Linked DNA regions of Homo sapiens. The protein of the gene in region 2 interacts with the protein of the main gene of each other region in a pairwise test. Each region holds a gene or a part of one and is shown on either strand. Other genes may lie near its edges.

Region 1 (3,646 bases), on a different chromosome or scaffold from region 2:
ATTGAGACAAACGCTTCTGTTCTTTCTTTGATACTATGGGAAACAAATGGGAACTTAGGGTCATTAGAAATATGGCCTCACATACTCCTGAGATTGTCTTGCTGAAGCCGGACTGGTCTGGGGTCACCATTCTCTGAATAAACAAGTATAAGGGGAAAGACGTGGGGACTCTGCCTGGAGAGAATGGTTTCCATCTCCCCTGCAAGTAAAAGTTACATTTTAGTGTTAACAAAAAAGTGTGGCTGTGAAGATAGCACTGTGTGTATGTGTATGTGTTTGTGTGTGTTTGCATACACGTGCATGCACACATATGAGCACATCGCCCAGGAGAGACAGATATGATGAGACTTCCTTGAGCCAATCCTGTGTTGGCACCCACCACTTCTCCCCGCTTTGTGGCTTAATACCTATGAATCTCCAACAGTGAAGGTGCCTCAACACCTAGGAAGAGAGAAGAATCAAGTTGAGGTTTTATAATGCCAGAACCCTAAGTCATATTTGTAATATCTCCCAGAATCAAGTTATATATCAGCAGGCTACAGTTACCTAAGAGTTGAGGTCTTGAAAATAGCTTAGAACAGCAGCCCAGTCATTTGCATTTTCCTGGGATATAGTTTATAGGACTTTAGATTCTTAGGTTATCTTCTTGGGCTCCTCAGAGGTCATGCCAGATGCCCCTGACTCCAAACAGGGAAGCTGTTTCCTTAGTCCAGAAATACAATGGTCTTTCTTCTTTTATTAAAGTTCTCCTAAACAGAACTTTTTCCAATGAATTTTCCAGTTTCTGAACACCAGGACTGGACTCAGCAACTGGAGCTTCTCCATCCTACCAGGTACTCTGCTTAGCAGAGGAGCATCCTGCATATAGGAAACACTCGGAAACCATGGGCAGCAGAAAGGACACAGGTTGATTCAACTTCTCAGCAGGCACCCTCCTTTGTAGGTAGCCTCTTACTTAGCTGAACCCCAGCACCATTTTCCCTCTTCTCACCTCCAGTAAGGCATTTTGTGGCCTTGGAAGGACCTTGGGATTAGGTATAAGCCCTTCTGCTCTCCAGAATATACCATGGAGCCACTAAGGATGCACAAATTGCTTATTTACCAATTTGAGCAGTAGACTAATGTTATCTCTGGCCTTTTAAATTACTCTAATGGTGTTGGAATCTAATATTAATATACTTTTGCCTCTCACCTGTTCCCATGACCAATGTAATTGGAGATTTCTTTCCTCTGTACTTAAATGGATGCAAAACTTTCTTATTTTTTGACAATAGAATCATATTATCTAAATGTACAGGCCTGGAAAATAGCTTGATTATAGTGTCAGCACATGGGGATGGAGGAGTAATAAAACTATAAGACTCAGCCACTTGGTTTTCTTTGATTTGGGTCCAGAGAAAGGAGAGAAATTTGCCCTCAGAATTGCAGATTTTTCTTTTCTTTTTCCTTTCACCTTAATCTGGTAAATGGGTTAAATCAATACCCTTGGCAGCTGGGATGCCCTTGGAAGGCACAGCCTCTTCTCTCCCTAGGATACATGAGAGTGTTTCACTGCAGAGGGGCCAAGGACCCTGGTGGCTCTAGTGTATAGGGAGGAGTCAGAGATGACACACTGGGGTCTGAGGCCTCCCTCTTCCCCTGGATAGAAGAAACTGTGCTGCTGCAGTGCTTTGAACTCAGAAGCCTGGAAACTCCTAGGGGCATTTGGGAGAGTATGGGACAGTGTACAGAGGTGAGAGCAGAGGAGAAGTAGACTCTTAGGAGGCCCTGAAAGAGGCTGATGTTAAATATGCATTGAATATAGGTATCAGCTTAGTGTAGTTTGGGCAATTTTGTCATAATCTGATGTCACCTGTAAGGATTTTTACTTTTTCCAGTAGGAGATGAGGGAATTCTTTGCTGTCTGAAGGGACAGGGAGGGGAAGGAGGGAAAACCTCTGGTTTCCCCTGCAGCCCTCTGGGTAATGTCAGCTTGCTTCCAGACAGAGGGCGGTAAGGGAAGTCAGGCAGACCTGGCTCCCAGGAGCTCCATCAATAGGCCTGCAGTTAGCCTGGGCAGTCCTGCCTTCCAGGAAGCTGTCGCTCAGCACAGAACTGCAGCTGTGGCCCCAACGATAATCCCCTGCAGATGTCTGGGAGCCAAAGGGAGTCCTGGCGCCTGTTCATTTGTTATTGGTCTCCTTCAGAACGTGCCTGCCCTTCTCATTTCCACCCCCTCCTTGTTGTTATTGTTTGGGTTCTAAGTGGCCCAGCAGGAGAAAGACATTAGAAATGAAATTATTTTTGTTACATGCTACATCATTGCCTCCTCTCCTACCTGCTACCCCAGGCAGCACCATCACTAGCAACTCCCAGGAACTCTTGATATGGGAAAGTGGCTTAGTACCAGGCTTCCCTAGAATGAGAAGTGGTCCTGTTCACCAGACCCTCCTTTGCTGGCCTCATCATCATAACGGCCAGCATTTATTGTGCACTTACTGTGTGCAGGGCGCTGTGCTCAGCACTTGACATAGGTTCTTCATTTAAACTCCCAATCCTGCAACAACTCTGTGAAATAGGAACCCTTGTTTTTACATTTTTTGTTTGTTTATTATTTATTTATTTATTTATTATTTTCATTTTTAGAGAGAGGTCTTGCTCTGTCACCCAGGCTGGAGTGCAGTGGTGCAATCATAGCTCACAGCAGCCTTGAACTCCTGGGCTCAAGTGATCCTCCTGCTTCAGCCACCCGAGCAGCTGGGAGTACAGGTGCATGCCAGCATGCCCAACTAATTTTTTAAAGAATTTTTTGTAGATATAGGGCCTTGCTTTGTTGTCCAGTCTGGTCTTGAACTCCTGGCTTCAAACGATCCTCCTGCCTCAGAGTAACCCTTATTATTCCATTTTGCAGAGGAAGAAGCATAGGCTTAGAAAGGTAAGTGGTTTGCACAAGGTCACACGTTTCATGTGTGAGACAAAGATTCAAAACCAGACTGTTTAAGGCTAAAGCAATAGCCCTCTCTGATACGTAAGTGGCATAAAGAACAAGAAAAGGAGGAGAATAGGGATAAGAAGATAATTCTTTAGTGAATGAAAGGGCAGTAATCTTTGTGTATGATACCAGGAAAGTGAAGAGGGAGACAGCAGATGGAGAAGGATGAATAAAATAACTCCTTGGGATTCTTAAATTTGAGAACCAGCGAGGAAGTGTTCTGTACCTGGATCTGGGTCCCTTTGGATGAAATGCACTGGGCGTAAACCTCAGCAAGCAGTGGGAGCAGGAGGGAGGGCGGCAGGAGCAGGAGGGAGGCAGGGTCAACTAAGCCTTCCAACCTGGGGGAGGAGCTGGGAGGAGGTGTAGACGGATGTTTTGTCAAGCTCTTCTGGAACTGTGATGACATTACCTTCTGTCCCACATCTCTTTGAGGTGAACTGAACTGTCCAAAGGATGAAAGCCAGACTTCTGCCAACAATTAGGTCTTTGGGTTTGCTTTCTTATTACCATAGAAGGAAAACTTGTTATATCTCCAAGACTAAGCTTCCACATTTTACAGAAATGTGAGGGCGGGATGGCCTGGGATCCTGGACAGACACAGGAGTGACTCATGAGAGCTGCCTTTAAAAAATGAGCTGATTAGCCAGACGCGGTGGCTCACGCCTGTAATCC
Region 2 (3,646 bases):
GTCTCTCCCCTGCTTAAAACCTTTCAGGACTTAAATGAGACAATAATATAACACATAAATAAGCAGAGAGAGATCTAATCCAATCCCATGCCATCCAATCCCATCCCATCCCATCCCATCCCATCCCATCCCACCCAAATGTCTTGGCCTGCAAGGTCCGCATGGGCTGGTTCTTCGTCTCCCACCCACTGCCTCACTCCCTCTGCCTCCACCACTCTGGCTTCCCTCGTCCCTCAAATGCCTCAGGGCTTTTGCACCTACTCTGCTCTCTTTCCCCAGATCTTTCTCTGGCTGGCTCTTTCTCATCATTTAAGTCTCAGCTCAACTGTCGCTTTCTTGGAGAGAGAGACCTCCCTTGACTACCTTGTCTGAGGGAGCGCCCCTCCTGTGCTACTGGCCATTCTCTGTGCTGCTGTCCTCTTTTCTCCAGGGCACTTGACACTCTCCAAAATCATCTAATTTGTCTGTCAGTCTTGTCCACCAAAATGTAAGCTCCAAGACAGCAGACATGGTAGTATCTGCCACATTAATTGCCAAATTTCTGGGGTCATGCCAGGCCCATAGTAGGTATTTGACAACTATGAATGAAGGGATGAATGAATACTAACTCTGGAGCAGAACTACATTTGGATCTGGTGGGGGGGGGGTGGGGGTGATTTGTGGATTATAAAAATCAGACCCGCAGTGCTGAACTCATGTTGCTAGAGTCGTTTATATTTATTGCACAATTCACCAGCTATGTGAGCATTTCTCATTCATGTCAATACAAAAGAAAAATGGGAATGAAAGAAAGCTTTGGGCAGTGTCAACTTCAAAGGCTCAACTCCAATTTGACTTTCTGGCTAATTTCTGTGGGCCTTTCTTTTCTTTTTCTGTCTTTCTTTCTTTCTTTCTTTTTTTTTTTTTTTTTTGAGACAGAGTTTTTCGCTCTTGTTGCCCAGGCTGGAGTGCAATGGCGCGATCTCAGCTCACTGCAACCTCTGCCTCCCGGGTTCAAGCAATTCTCCTACCTCAGCCTCCCAAGTAGCTGGGATTACAGGCACCTGCCCCAATGCCTGACTAATTTTTGTATTATTTATTTACTTTATTTTATTTTTTTAAGTAGAGACGGGTTTTCACCACATTGGCCAAGCTGGTCTCAAACTCCTGACTTCAGGTGATCCGCCGGCCTCTGCCTCCCAAAGTGCTGGGATTATAGACATGAGCCACCATGCCAGGCCTTCTGTGGGCCTTTCAAAGCTCAATTTCTACATCCCCTCCTCCAAGAAGCAGTCCCTGGTGCTCCGAGTCCAGTTAGGTGCTGCATTCTCTAGCTCTGTCCTATATGTCTTAGCTCAATGTTTGTGTCTCCACCAGCCTGGGAGCCTCTGGAGGGCAGGGACCCCATCTGACTCACTGTTATGTGCCCAGAGCTTGGCACAGAGATGATGCTCAATGAAGGCAGGAAAGGTGGGATACAACAGAGGAGGGGAGAGGAGGCCCTGGGCATGGCCCTGGGCAGTGCTGGGGGAGTGCCAGGTGCTTACTGAGCTTACCTGAGTGATGTTAGAGAGACCGATCAGGTAGGAGATGATGCAGACAGCAGCAATGAAGAGCTCTCTGCGGTTGCGGAGGAGCCTGGGGTACTCATCCACCAGGGCTGTGATGAAGCCCTCCACAGTGCAGAACTTCAGGTGGGAACAGAGGTCAGCCACCTGCAGCAGCCCCAGCCCCAACCCACCCAAAGCCTGGCCCTCTAAGGAAGGACGGGAGGCCCAGCAGCACCGAGCCAGGAGAGCCCAGGGTCCAGCCTGATTCTGCCTGTGACTCACTTTGTGACCTCAGGAGAGTCCCTCCCCTCTGGGCATCAGTTTCCCCTTCTGGAAAATGGAGAAGGTGGCTGAGCTGTTTCCTGAAATTTCATGCAGTGGAACATTCTAGGGACCTGGAATTTTTGGTCATCTTCTTGGCAGCCTAAGAGTTGCCTCCTCTCCCTGTTTACTCGGGGACTGAGGAGTCTGGGGATGGAGAGCTCCTGGGGTGCGGGGGGGGCGCCCTCACCTGGCTGTCAATGCCCAGCATCAACAGCATGGAGAAGAAGAGGATGGCCCAGAGTGGGGAGATAGGCAGCTGGGTCACCGCCTCTGGGTATGCCAGGAACGCCAGCCCGGGGCCTGAACAGAGAAGTGCAAAAAAGAAGAAAAATAAAAGGTACTCATCACCTACAGCCTTTCCAGCACACTGCCCATTTTCTAAGCCTTATTTCATTTCATCTTCAGAGTAACCTTTTGAGTGAGTGTTTTCAGCCCCTTTTTCCAGGTGCAGAAAGAGGGTGGGGGATGTGGGGCCATAGTAATTGTGCCCAGAGGCAAGAGGACCAGTGAGGAGCTGTGGCCATCATCTCGATGGGGGATGGCATGGCTTGGCCAGTAGTGAGGATAGTGCAGGTGCAGAGAGGCAACCAGATAGAGAGATATGTAGGGGATGGAGGGGCAGGTGCTGGTATTGGCTGGTTTGCAGGATGAGGGTGAGGGAAGAGTCCAGGACAATGCTGAGGTCTCCACCCTGGGCACTGGACCATGGGACCCTTCTGTGATGGGGAGCATGGTGGAGGAGAAGGCTTTGGAGCCTTGTTTGGCATGTATTGTGTTTGAGTAGTTGGTGGGGGTGTCTAAGAGATCAGGAAATCTCGGAATGAGAAGGAAAGAGATTGTAACCTCCCTGGGTCTGGCTCCGGATGGGGGTGGGGGAATGGTTGGGGAATTGCAGAGAAACGAGATGGTGGCTGCCCTTGAAGGGGAGATTAGAACCGGAGCAGAGAATGCTCCTTTCACGGAACCAGCCCACTTCTTCAAGGGACCAGCCGTGTGGCCTCCATGAGCCTCAGGGGCCTCTGCCCTGCATACAGTGGGTTCCACCTGTTGGCTGCTTGCCTGGCTGTGCAGCGAAGGGCTGTCTGGGGTTTTCCTTGGGTTCTGTGGCATTGATGACTGTGTGGTGAGCAGAGTGGGCATGGCCCACTTGGCGAGAACATTTTTGGAGCTGAGACAAAAGCATGGATTTAGTGGTCTTTGTAGTATGGTGATGAACATGTCTGAATTGAGCCAAAGTGTTGCGGGAGGTCAGGGACCCCAAACAGAGGGACCGGCTGAAGCCATGGCAGAAGAACATAGATTGTGAAGATTTCATTGACACTAGTTCCCCAAATTAATACTTTTATAATTTCTTACACCTGCCTTTACTGCAATCTCTGAACATAAATTGTGAAGATTTCATGGACACTTATCACTTCCCCAATCAATACTCTTGTGATTTCCTATGCCCGTCTTTACTTTAATATCTTAATCCCATCATCTTTGTAAGCTGAGGATGAATGTTGCCACAGGACCTTGTGATGATTGCATTAACTGCACAAATTGTTTAAACAATATGAAATCTGGGCACCTTGGAAAAAAAACAGGATAACAGTGATGTCCAGGGAACAAGGGAGATAACCTTAACGTCTGGCTGCCTGTGGGCCAGGTGGAACAGAGCCATATTTCTCTTCTTTCAAAAGCAAATAGGAGAAATATCGCTGAATTCTTTTTCTCAGCAAGGAACTTCCCTGAGAAAGAGAATGCGTCCCTAAGGGGAGGCCTCTGAAATGGCCGCTTTGGGGACGTCTGTC
Region 3 (4,092 bases), on a different chromosome or scaffold from region 2:
GCCGGTGGGAGCAAAGAAGTCCCTTCAGCACAGCAAGAAAAACATTTTAAGCTGTATCTTTAATATTGGTAAACGGGAACAATGAGACAGAACAACAGAAAACGCAGTATGTTCCGTCATAATAACTGAGGCTGGTGACTTGTAACAGGTAGGTGGATGAATATAGTAGCGTATTTAAAATTAGATGTATTGAAAGCAGGCATTTCTCTGCGTCCCTCTTCAGATGGGTCAGCGAGACCCCCAGACACTGGATTGATGACAGCTGTTGTTCCCCCACCCCCCACTCCCAATCTCAAAGCATTGCTATGGGTCGATGTCATACTTGTTTACTCAGGAATAAACAATGAAAGGAACTTTGTTAGGACCAAATCCTTCCTTTCAGCTCTGATGTTGCATGATCGGGGTGAAGTTTCCATCAAATGCGGGCACCTCAACAGGTAGCATTTTGTAAATGCCTCCTCCTACCTACCCTCCTCCTTCTCCCTCACAAGATTCTTCATTTTCGGTTTGAGAAGACGTTGGGGATCCTGGGAGAGGGTCCAGTGTCGTCAGGGCAGTTGCAATTGTTTATGCGATGAGCACAGTCACAGCGCTTGCAGAACAAAAGCATCGAAGAGAGGCGAGCGCCGGTCCACCTCCTGCAATCACAGGCATCATTTCAATGGAAGGCAAAGAAGGTGTAAGCTACAAGCAGAGGCAGCAAACGCCCTGGTTCCTACATTGCTGCTGCTACTATTACTGCTGTGGCTGCGCCTCCTCCAACACAGCCAACCAGGCTGCGTGCGAGCCCGGGCAGACGCCTGGCCGCCTCCCCACCCTTTCTTCCAGCCATCCATCTATCCTTCCACCCCCGGTCCAGGGGGCCCTACTGTGTGGCGGACTCAGGGCCGGGCACGCAACCCGACTCACAGTCCACGGAGTTCGAGAGCCTTCCCCCTTCCCCCCGCCCCGGGTGGGTGCGGCCAGTGGGGGATTTCACCGCCGAAAGGTCCAGAAAACCCAAGCCCAGAATCCGGGCAAGAGGCGCAGCCGGAGGCGGCCCGACCTGGGCGGCCCGGGAGCGCGCGCCTCCGAGGCCGCGCAGGTTCTCCCTGTCTGGCGCTCAGGTGGCTTCTCCGTCCACTCCGCCGCTCCCCTCCCCGGGCCCTCCCCTCTCCAGCGAGGGTCGAGTTTGACTGTGGCGCGCGGGGAAGGAGGGGCTACTAGGGATTTGAAAGTGCACGGGCTGCGGAGTGGAGCTCGCATCTGTTCCCGCCGCCCGCGAGCGGATTAAATTTCTGCAAATTCAAACTGAATGGGGCTTTCTTCTGCTGCCTTCCAGAGGGCGCCGGCAGCCCGCCGCGCGCTTCTCTCCGGCGGGAGCGGCCGCCCAGCGCACGGCTAGGAGCGATCGCGGGAGCCCGACCCAAGCCCGTGCGGGCCAGACGGCGGCGGCGAGGCGGAGGCTGCGGAGGCACCCGGGCTCCCGGACCCAGGCACCCGGACCCCGGGACCCAGGCGCCGCCGGACCGCGCCCCACCCCGCGCGCCCGAGCAGGGCGACTGTCATTAGCTTCCTGGACGGGACCCGGGGCGGGATCCTGGTGTCCTGAAAGGGGCCCGGGCGACCCTAAGAGGAAGAACTTTTGGGGGCGGGGTCCCCGGTCCCGCGTCCCCTGGGCAGCCGCTATTGTCTACGCGCCTCGCTGGGCGGCGCGGGGGGCGTGATCGCGGCGGCCCCGGGCTCTGGGTGCGGAGACCCAGGCGGGGCTGGGCCCAGGGCGGCGGCGGGAGAAGCCGGGGAAGCCGAAGAGCCTGGGGAGGAGGAGCTGCGAGCGCGGGAGACGAGCAGGAGCCGCGCGGGCCGCGGCGAGCGCGATGCCGGCGGCGGCGGGGGACGGGCTCCTGGGGGAGCCGGCGGCGCCTGGGGGCGGCGGCGGCGCGGAGGACGCGGCCAGGCCCGCGGCGGCCTGCGAGGGAAGTTTCCTGCCTGCCTGGGTGAGCGGCGTGCCCCGCGAGCGGCTCCGCGACTTCCAGCACCACAAGCGCGTGGGCAACTACCTCATCGGCAGCAGGAAGCTGGGCGAGGGCTCCTTTGCCAAGGTGCGCGAGGGGCTGCACGTGCTGACCGGGGAGAAGGTGAGTCTCCCGGGCGCCGTGGGGCTGGGGCACAGGGGCGGGAGTCGGCGGCCAGGACCCCGCGGGGAGCACTGCACTGGGAGTCCCAGTGTGCAGTCCCGGGCCAAGCGCCTTCCCCCTCCGCCCGGCTTTCCTGTTGGGTTAAAACGCGCGCTCAGCATCTCGCAGCCTTTCCCGAAGGCGGCCTGCGGTCCGCTGCCCGGGGGTTGGGGGCTTGGGAGGGGACGGCCTTGCCCCGGGAAGCGTCCCGCGCGGCCGTTCTGCTCGTGGAAGGGCGCCGCCTGGCGACACTAGCGCGGGGGGCGGGATGGGGCCCCTCTGCCCTTCAGGCCGGCAGGGGCGGCGGATCCGTGGCGAGGCGGGAACCAGGGCTAGAGGAGGTGGGCTCTTATGTCGGGGGGCGGGGGGGGCAGGAAAGCTAACAGCCAGCCTCTGGGGGGAGCTTAGAGTCTGATCCCCGTCCTGGGCTCTCGGAGGAGGTGGGAGAAGGCTGAGATCCTGCATTCCTTCCCACCTGTGGGCTCCGGCAGCTAGGGAATGTTTTTTGGCAGCTAGGGAATTTTTCGTGCTCAGAGGAGGGTTTTTGCCTCCGCCCTCCACTTGTCCATCCCTCAACCTGTGCTCCTCTCTATCCACTCAACCCTCCCACCCCTGCCCCCTCATCACCCACCATTCTCATCCCCGCCATTCTCATCCCCTTCTCTCCGTTCCCCCAGCTCCTCTGTGCCCTCCAGCCTCAGGGTGGGAGCTGCAGTGAAGACCCTGCTACTGGCAGGAACAGAACTACAGATACCTCCCCCCAGAGACTGGGAGATGCCTTCTTATCTTTCTAGAAGAGGGGAAAGGAAAGGGGACCTCCGCGAGACCAAAAGGGGCACCTCTCCAGCCTTGTTGGAAGTTAGATGGTTGTGAACCCTTGCCAGGCGAGGGGCAGGTAAGATGGAAGGTGTAACTTAGAGCTGTGAGAAGAAACCCAAGAGCTTGGTGACTCGCTTTTGAGGCCGGGTCACCCCAGGCTGGAGCTGCCCGAGCTCAGAGCCAATCCAGGCTGGAGCTGTCCCAAGCTCCTGTCATCTCGGGCTCAAGACTGCCCCCAGGCTGGGGGTGGCTCAAACCTGGAGGGGGACCAGCTCCTTTGTGTGGTCCGTGGGTCAGGGAGGCGTCAGCCGCAAGGAGGGAAGGCGGAGTTCACTTCCCAACCGAGCAGGTGGCCTGGGAGCCGAGCCCTCTGCCTTCCGACCTGGGGGCCTCTGCCCAGCCTGGGGCTGCCCTGTGAAACCCCTGGTCACAGGGCCAACCTGCCCTTCCTGCCTGTCTCTAGCCTCACCCCACCTGTAGTTCCCTCCCCACCCCATTTCCCCTCTTTGTCTTGGAGCCTTTTGCCTGTGAATGCAGGTCTCCGTCACCCTTGTCATTTTCCCTGTGTTCCCTACAGCCGTTTTGAGTGAGGCACCGCTTTATTATGGGTATGTGGGGATAGAGTGAGTAGTTTTTAGAAGTGCCTCCTGCCTGAATTCCCATGCAAAAAAGGAGCGTTCAGTATGAACTTGAGTAAGTCTTCAAAGAAAAAGGAAAAACCTCCAAACCTCGTTCTAGTCCGCAGGAGCGAGGCACACTTACACTCCTCGATTCGATTCGATTCGATTCGTAGTGAGCTGTCTGACTTCCACACTGCGGGTCCGTTCAGGGCGCGAGGATGCGGCTAATTAGAGTGAGCTCTCTTCTCCTGGCCCTGTGTAAATTCCTGTTGGCACTGGCGATGGAAGTTTATTTTCATTGGAAACGTATAGGATTCAGGCTGGTTGTGCATATTTCCTCTCTAAACATAACGGAAAGAAGCGAGTCTTTATGCTCACAACGTCATGGCAAACACTGCAAGTACATTCTTCTCGCCTGCCCTGGTGCACAGACTTCTTTTCTGGCTTCCCTCCACCTTGCTGTGTTGTGCTGTGCCTCTGGCTCTGTAGCAGCGCAT

What was found.
Region 1: the proteins of SLC6A1 (region 2) and DRD2 interact in a two-hybrid assay, tested with the Homo sapiens proteins (one large-scale study listed by BioGRID and IntAct).
Region 3: the proteins of SLC6A1 (region 2) and HUNK interact in a two-hybrid assay, tested with the Homo sapiens proteins (one large-scale study listed by BioGRID and IntAct).

What each region holds. Positions count from the first base shown.
Region 1 is NC_000011.10:113,468,817-113,472,462, reverse strand, and holds part of DRD2 (D(2) dopamine receptor), read left to right. Parts: intron 1-3,646. UniProt on the Homo sapiens protein: Dopamine receptor whose activity is mediated by G proteins which inhibit adenylyl cyclase. Positively regulates postnatal regression of retinal hyaloid vessels via suppression of VEGFR2/KDR activity, downstream of OPN5.
Region 2 is NC_000003.12:11,027,242-11,030,887, reverse strand, and holds part of SLC6A1 (sodium- and chloride-dependent GABA transporter 1), read right to left. Parts: intron 2,154-3,646; coding exon 2,041-2,153; intron 1,668-2,040; coding exon 1,536-1,667; intron 1-1,535. UniProt on the Homo sapiens protein: Mediates transport of gamma-aminobutyric acid (GABA) together with sodium and chloride and is responsible for the reuptake of GABA from the synapse. The translocation of GABA, however, may also occur in the reverse direction leading to the release of GABA.
Region 3 is NC_000021.9:31,871,819-31,875,910, forward strand, and holds the start of HUNK (hormonally up-regulated neu tumor-associated kinase), read left to right. Parts: upstream 1-1,201; 5' UTR 1,202-1,856; coding exon 1,857-2,117; intron 2,118-4,092.